Linked DNA regions of Homo sapiens. The gene in region 1 interacts genetically with each later gene. Each region holds a gene or a part of one and is shown in the gene's direction. Other genes may lie near its edges.

Region 1 (3,810 bases):
CCTCCCAGCCTCAAGTGATCCTCCCAACTTAGCCTCCCAAGTGGCTGGGACTGTAGGCATGCACCACCACACCCAGGTATTTTTAAAAAGTTTTTGTAGAGATGAGGTCTTGCCATGTTGCACAGGCTGGTCTCGAACTCCTGGGCTCAAGTGACCCGCTTCAGCCTTGGCTGTTGGTTCTTGACCATTCATGGAGCTCCCCAAAGCCCAGGACAGAATCAGGAGGGCAGAGGACACAGGAGGAGCTCCCTACTCCCTCATGGGAGCCTGGGACAGGGATTAGACCTGGGCGGAGGGGCTCATGGATGTTCCAGGCCAGGAAAGGACCTGCCACAGAGCGGGGCAGCCTGAGGCAGTGAGAGGAAAGACGTGTTTCTAGCTGAGGCAGCGGGCCAGAACACTTGGGTCTGCGGCGTGGCAGGTCTGGGGTGACCCACCTTTCTTCCCACCCCACAGTCCTGATCCTGGAGGCCATCGAGAACCACAACCTCGCAGACACGGTGCTCAAGATCACGGACTTCGGCCTCGCCCGCGAGTGGCACAAGACCACCAAGATGAGCGCTGCGGGGACCTACGCCTGGATGGCGCCGGAGGTTATCCGTCTCTCCCTCTTCTCCAAAAGCAGTGATGTCTGGAGGTGCTGAAAGGCGCGGCCGGGATGGCCTCTGGGGAGTAAGGGAGGGAGGAAGGGGTGAGGGCAGAGTGGGAGGGAGGGTCTCCTGCTGAAGCCAGGATCTCAGTCTGACAAAGGGACCTGCTGGCAAGGTCAGGCCACCAGACAAGTGCCAGTTACCTGTTCAGCTAGCACAAATGGCAACTAGGGGGCACACTGGATTAGAATAAAAAGCTCATAGGATCTAGAGACAAGGCCGGGCGCGGGGGCGCACACCTGTAATCCCAGCACTTTGGGAGGCCGAGGTGGGCGGATCACTTGAGGTCAGGAGTTTGAGACCAGCCTGACCAACATGGTGAAACCCCATCTCTACTAAAAATACTAAAATTACCTGGGCGTGGTGGCAGATGCCTGTTGTCCCAGCTACTCGGGAGACTGAGGCAGGAGAATCACTTGAGGCCGGGAGGCAGAGATTGCAGTGGGCTGGGATTGGCCACTGCACTCCAGCCTGGGTGACAGAGCGAGACTCTGTCTCCAAAAAAAGAAAAAATTTAAAAAAGCATAGAGACAGCACATGGATGCTAGCACTGAAAGCCCCCTCAGACACTAGCCCATGCACTGTCCCATCTGTCAGACAGGAAAATGATTAATTCACTCATTCATTCCTTCATCTAACTGCACCGGGTTCTAGGGATATAGCAGAGAAGAAAAATACATGCAATCCCTGCCCTCAGGAATAGTAAGTCAGTCAACATACAAGAAGCTCTTTTTTATAAAGCTGTTTTTTAAGAAAATTATAATTTTTAAAGACAAGTACACCAGAAAAAAGTGTTAGTACAAAGTGCGAGGAGGCTGAGAGGAAGGCACTTTAAGGGCTGGAAGACTACTTTTGGGAACGCTTCTCTGAGCAATCTGAGAAATGATACTTCATCTGAGTTCCAAGTGGCAAAAAGGAACCAGTCACGAAAAGTTTGGAGGAAGAAGGAGGTGCTGAGGTGAGCATGGTGTGTCCCAGAAACAGCAAAGAGGCCCATGTGGCTGCCACTGTGCAGGCAAGGAAGAGAGAGGTAGGAAATTATGTAGGAGAGGGAGCTGGAAGGCCCTGTGGGTGAGGGAGTGGCCTTCAGGTTTTATTCTAATGAAGTAGGAAGCCATGAGGAGCCATGTCTGAATAGAGTGGTAGCTCACACCTATAATCCCAGTACTTTGGGAGGCCAAGGTGGGAGGATCACTTGAGGCCAGGAATTTGAGACCAGCCTGGTCAATGTAGTGAGACCCCATGTATATGAAAAAGAAATTTTTAAATTAATTTTTATAAAAGGAAGTAAATAAAAACTCCTTTGGAGGCCGGGTGCGGTGGCTCACGCCTGTAATCCCAGCACTTTGGGAGGCCCAGGTGGGTGAATCCCTTGACACCAGGAGTTTGAGACCAGCCTGGCCAACATGGTGAAATCCCACCTCTACTAAAAATACAAAAATTCGGCCAGGCGCGGTGGCTCACGCCTGTAATCCTGGCACTTTGGGAGGCCGAGGTGGGTGGTTCACTTGAGGCCAGGAGTTCATTCAGGACTAGCCTGGCCAACATGGTGAAACCCCATCTCTACTAAAAATACAAAAATTAGCCAGGCATGGTGGTGGGTGCCTGTAGTCCTAGCTACTCAGGAGGCTGAGGCAGGGGAATTGCTTGACTGCAGGAGGCAGAGGTTGAGATGGCGCCGTTGCACTCCAGCCTGGGTGACAGAGCAAGACTCCATCTGAAAAAAAATACTTAAAAATAAAAGCTCCTTTGACTGTTAGGTAGAGACAGCCAATGATGGGTCTGTTGCTGTCACCAGTGAGAGTTGATGGTGGCCATGGAGACTTTCAACCCAGGACCTTCTGCTTGGTTGGAGCCAAACCTGGGTCTCCCCATTTACTGTTCCCGTCAATTCCCAGCTGAGGCTCCAGATTGTCCAAGCAGCAAATTAATGGGTATGGGACTGAGACAGATCAGACAGGAAGTCTCCAGCTCAGCCTAGAGCAGAGCAGCCCTTTGGGAGAATTTCCAACTGGCTGTACATCAGGCGTTCATTTGTGCTACCTTTTTTTTTTTTTTTTTTTTTTTTGGGACAGAGTCTCACTCTGCCGCCCAGGCTGGAGTGCAATGGCACAATCTCAGCTCACTGCACCCTCCTCCTCCCAGATTCAAGTGATTCTTGTGCCTCAGCCTCCCGAGTAGCTGAGATTATAGGCATGCACTGGCTAATTTTTATATTTTTAGTGGAGACAGGGTTTCACCATGTTGGCTAGGCTGGTCTTGAAGTCCTGACCTCAGGTGATCCGCCCGCCTCAGCCTCCTAGAGTGCTGGGATTACAGGCATGAGTCACTGCACCCGGCCGGGCAGGCTAATTCTTTCTGATGTGGTCCTGTCCTGTACTTAGCAGGATGCAGGATATCCACACCTCCCCGCCATAAACTTCAGTAACATTCTCAGTCATTATTACAATCACAGTAACCCCATAGGTTTCCAAGGACATGGGAGAGAGGGGTGGATCATGCTACCCTCCAGTTATAAACCACTGTTTCTCCCCCACCTTGTATGGTCTCCATTCTGAAGTTTACTTCATGATCCAAAATGACTGCTTGAGCTCCAGCGTTTTTTGTTTTTTTTTTTTTTTTGAGCTGGAGTCTTGCTCTGTCGCCCAGGCCGGAGTACAGCGGCGCGATCTTGGCTCACTGAAACCTCTGCCTCCTGGGTTCAAGCAATTATCCTGCCTCAGCCTCCCAAGTAGCTGGGACTACAGGCACATGCCACCAGGCCCAGCTAATTTTTGTATTATTTATTTATTTTTTTTAATTTTTCAGTAGAGACGGGGTTTCACCATATTGGCCAGGACAGCCTTGATCTCTTGACCTCATGATCTGCCCACCTGGGCCTCCTAAAGTGCTGGGATTACAGGCGTCAGCCACCGCACCCAGCCTTTTTTTTTTTTTTTTTTTTAACAGGGTCTTGCTCTGTCACCCAGGCTGGAGTGCAGTGATGCCGTCACAAATCATTGCAGCCTCAACCTCCTGGGCTCAAGTGATCCTCCCACCTCAGCCTCTCTAGTAGCTGGGACTACAGGCATGCCACCACACCAGGCTAATTTTTTGTAGAGACGAGGTCTCACTTTGTTTCCTACGCTGGTCTCGATCTCTTGGGCTCAAGAGGTCCTCT
Region 2 (3,810 bases), about 38 Mb from region 1:
CTGGCGCTGATGCCCAGGCTCTGCCTGGGGACAGTTCCCAGGACGGGAGCCTGAGGGCAGCGCACGGGACCAGCGTGAGGACACGGACTGGCCCGTGTCTGCCTCTGACTTGCTGGGTGTGCCTTTGAGTTCCTCTGAGGGTGGGTGCGCCGAGGGGGATCCAGCTGGGCCCTGGCCACGTGCAGGCCAGCCAGAGCCCTGGAGCCTGCAGGTGGGCTGGGACAGGGCTTGCGACCGCAGGGGTGGTGTGCGTTTGCGCTGGCGTCTGCACAGGTGTGTGCGTGCTGTGCCATCACGCTGGTCAGGCCTGTACGCCGTGGAGAGGGGCGCTGTGTGGGGCTCGCTGCCTGAGCCCTGGGTGGACCGTGGCTGCCCCATGAGTTGTCGGGGACCTCCGCTGCCCCTTGGACCTCGCCCGCGGCCCTGGGCAATGGGTGTGGTGACGTCCTGGGGCCCCCATGAGTCAGCTCGTCCTCGTGCCCGGGCACTGGCCTCTCCTTCCTGTGGGCGCACAGCCCCGGTTCCTCTGAAAGCTTCGTGGGCCGGGACCCGGGATGAGCTGGTTAAACCCTGGCCCTGTGAGCAGGAGGTGTGGCTTCGGGGGGCGGCCCCGCCCTGGGCTCAGACTTGATCCTGCACCGGAGGGAGCCATTCTGGAAGGCCGCTGCCCCGGGCCCTGTCCCTCCCCCTCTCATCCCCAGGGTGCTGGCCAGAGCCGGGCTCACAGCGTTTCTTAAAATTAACGATCCCGGCCGGGCGTGGTGGCTCACGCCTGTAATCCCAGCACTTTGGGAGGCCGAGGCGGGTGGATCACGAGGTCAGGAGATCGAGACCATCCTGGCTAACACAGTGAAACCCCGTCTCTACTAAAAAGACAAAAAATTAGCCGGGCGCGGTGGCAGGCGCCTGTACTCCCAGCTACTCGGGAGGCTGAGGGAGGAGAATGGCATGAACCCGGGAGGCGAAGCTTACAGTGAGCTGAGACCGCGCCATTGCACTCCATGTGGGCGACAGAGTGAGACTCCGTCTCAAAAAAAAAAAAAAAAAACGCAAAAAAAAAAAAGATCCCGTCACACTGACCCAGCTCACTGTTCTCTTACCAGCCTTATTTCGGTGTGGTCCTTAGAGCATGAGCCACTTTTTTTTGCTGGGAACATAATCCACGTTTGGTAAAATTCGGCAACGTGTGCACGCAAGTGGTTTTTGTACAGCTGACCCTTGAGCAGGGTGGGGTTTAGGGCAGCAGCCCCTCATGTAGCAAAATACCCTCGTATAGCTTTCGAGTCCTCCAGATGCCGCTGCCGACAGCCTGCTGGTGACCAGAGGCCTCGGGAGGACACGTGGTCCGCGCACACATACCTCGTGTGTTGTGTTAGGTGCTGCGTTCTCACAGTGAGGGAAGCTGGAGACCAGAACATGTGGAGAAAAGCAGAAGGAAGAGAAACCCTGTTTGCTCTTCACGCAGTGGAAGTAATGCTCATGGAAGCCTCTGTCCTCGTCGTGTTCACGTTGAGGGCTGAGGAAGGGAGGGTGGGTCTCGCTGTCTCGGGTGGCAGAGCGGGAAGGAGCCAGGAGAGGCTGGCGCCCTCAGGGCAACCTTTATTGAAAAAATCCACGTCAGAGTGGACCTGTCAGTTCAAACCTGCCGTGGTCAAGGCTCCTCTGTGAGTGCAGCCACCACCTGTAATTCCAGAGTGTTCTCATCACCTGCAAAGGGAGCCCTGGCCCCATCAGCAGCCAGCCTTCCACACCATCCTTTCCAGAACCTTCCCACCTTCCCAAATTGAGACGCTGTCTTCGTGAAACGTTCACTCCCGTGCCCTCTCCAGCCCCTGGCACCCCCATCCTACTTTCTGGCTCTGTGACTCTGAGGGCTCCAGGGACCTCCTAGGGGTGGAATCACACGGGATGAGGCCTGGTGTGTTTGGCGTCTCTCACTGAGTGTGACACCCTCGGTGCATCCGCGCCATGGCCCGCGTCCGAGTCTCGCTCCTGTTCGTGGCTGAGTCGTGTTCCGGCGTGTGGGTGGCCACGTGTTTATTTCTGTGATAGATGTTTGCATGGCATCCGCGTGTGGCTGCTGCGAGCACCCGTGTCCGGTTCCCGTGTGGCTGCGTGATTCTTCTGTCAGGTGGACTTCTAGCGGTGGAACCGCTGGTCACAGGGCCACTCCCGGTTGGACCATTTGAGGAGCCGCAGACGGCCATCCATACCTGCACTGTTTGGGTCCCCTGCCGGGTTTTGGGGACTGGATCTCTGCACAGCGACGACCACTCCCCTCTTCCGGTGACTTGGTTTCTCCTGTCCTTCGGCCCGATGCTTCTCTGGCCTGCAGGGCATCAGGGACCCTGCTGTCCTGATCCCCATGCCGTCTAGAAAGCCAGGGGTCCTGCATGTGCCCGGTGTCCCCACTGCCTTGTCAGGCACAGGGCCAGATCCTGCACCCTGTGACGAGCACGGCCAGTGGGACAGACAGATGGATGTGCTGCCCGTGACCTTCGCCACAGCGAGTTCAGAGGCCGGAGGCATCCAGTGTCCACAGAGTGACCGGTAGGCCCCAGCCCCACAGGATCATCGAGGTGGCCCTGGCCTTTCGAGGCCACAAAAATCAACGTTTATTTTTATTTATTTTATTTATTTATATATTTATTTATATATTTATTTATGAGACGGAGTCTCGCTCTGTCCCCCAGGCTGGAGTGTGGTGGCGTGAGCTCTGCTCACTGCAAGCTCTGCCTCCCGGGTTCACACCATTCTCCTGCCTCAGCCTCCCGAGTAGCTGGGACTACAGGCACCCGCCACCACACCCAGCTAATTGTTTGTATTTTTAGTAGAGACGGGGTTTCACTGTGTTTGCCAGGATGGTCTTGATCTCCAGACCTCGTGATCCGCCCTCCTCGGCCTCCCAAAGTGCTGGGATTACAGGCGTGAGCCACCGCGCCTGGCCATCAATGTTTATTTTTAAGTAGCAAAAGAGAACTCAGCAGTGTTGGAGAACTTGAACATTACAGCAACATCTGAAGAAGATGTTCTTTCACAAACCTCAGATTCCAGGAGATGAGCACCGTCCGCTTTCCAGAGAAAATTGTCTGAGGCCTCTGGGAGACAGGAGGGGGTGCACTTAGAAACAGCCAAGGCCTCCTTCCATGTTGGGACGGACGGGCCTTCCTGGGCTGGCCCGGCCTAAATCTGCTGCCGCCCACCGAACACCAAGGCACCTTCTCGTGCCCCAGAGGCCACCAGCACCCGTCCCCCTGCCTCCCTCCAGCCAGTGTCAGGTGGGGACCTGGCCGCTGGAAGGGAGGTGTCACCTGCTCTGGGGCATCCAGGAGGGAGGGGCTGCGGGAGTTTTGCTGGAGACCCTCCAGGTGGGGGTTATGGGGTATCATGGCGGAGCGTGTTGGGAAGTTTTCGGTGAGCTGGGCGTTTATTCGCCTTGGTGCCCCCCTAGATCCCTGGGTGATCCCCGTGCCCAGTTTTCAGGGGAGACCATGGGGGTCAGAGAGCTGGCCAGGCGGGTGGTCTGTGTCTGTCCCCTGCTGTTGAAATGAGGGGAGGTGAGAGGAGACGCCGTGTGCCTGGGGAGGCAACACTTTCTACCGTTTGCTGGTTTATAAAAATCAAAGATGGCCAGGCACGGTGGCTCACGCCTGTAATCCCAGCACTTTGGGAGGCCGAGACGGGCAGATCACGAGGTCAGGAGATTGAGACCATCCTGGCTCTACTAAAATACCCTGTCTCTACTAAAAAAAATACAAAAAATTAGCCGGGCGTGGTGGCGGGCGCCTGTAGTCCCAGCTACTCGGGAGG

What was found.
Region 2: changes in MAP3K10 (region 1) and CSNK1G2 together harm fitness more than expected from each alone (negative genetic interaction), as found in Homo sapiens cells (one large-scale study listed by BioGRID).

The regions. Positions count from the first base shown.
Region 1 is NC_000019.10:40,197,919-40,201,728, forward strand, and holds part of MAP3K10 (mitogen-activated protein kinase kinase kinase 10), read left to right. Parts: intron 1-456; coding exon 457-637; intron 638-3,810. UniProt on the Homo sapiens protein: Activates the JUN N-terminal pathway.
Region 2 is NC_000019.10:1,947,492-1,951,301, forward strand, and holds part of CSNK1G2 (casein kinase I), read left to right. Parts: intron 1-3,810. UniProt on the Homo sapiens protein: Serine/threonine-protein kinase. Casein kinases are operationally defined by their preferential utilization of acidic proteins such as caseins as substrates. It can phosphorylate a large number of proteins. Participates in Wnt signaling.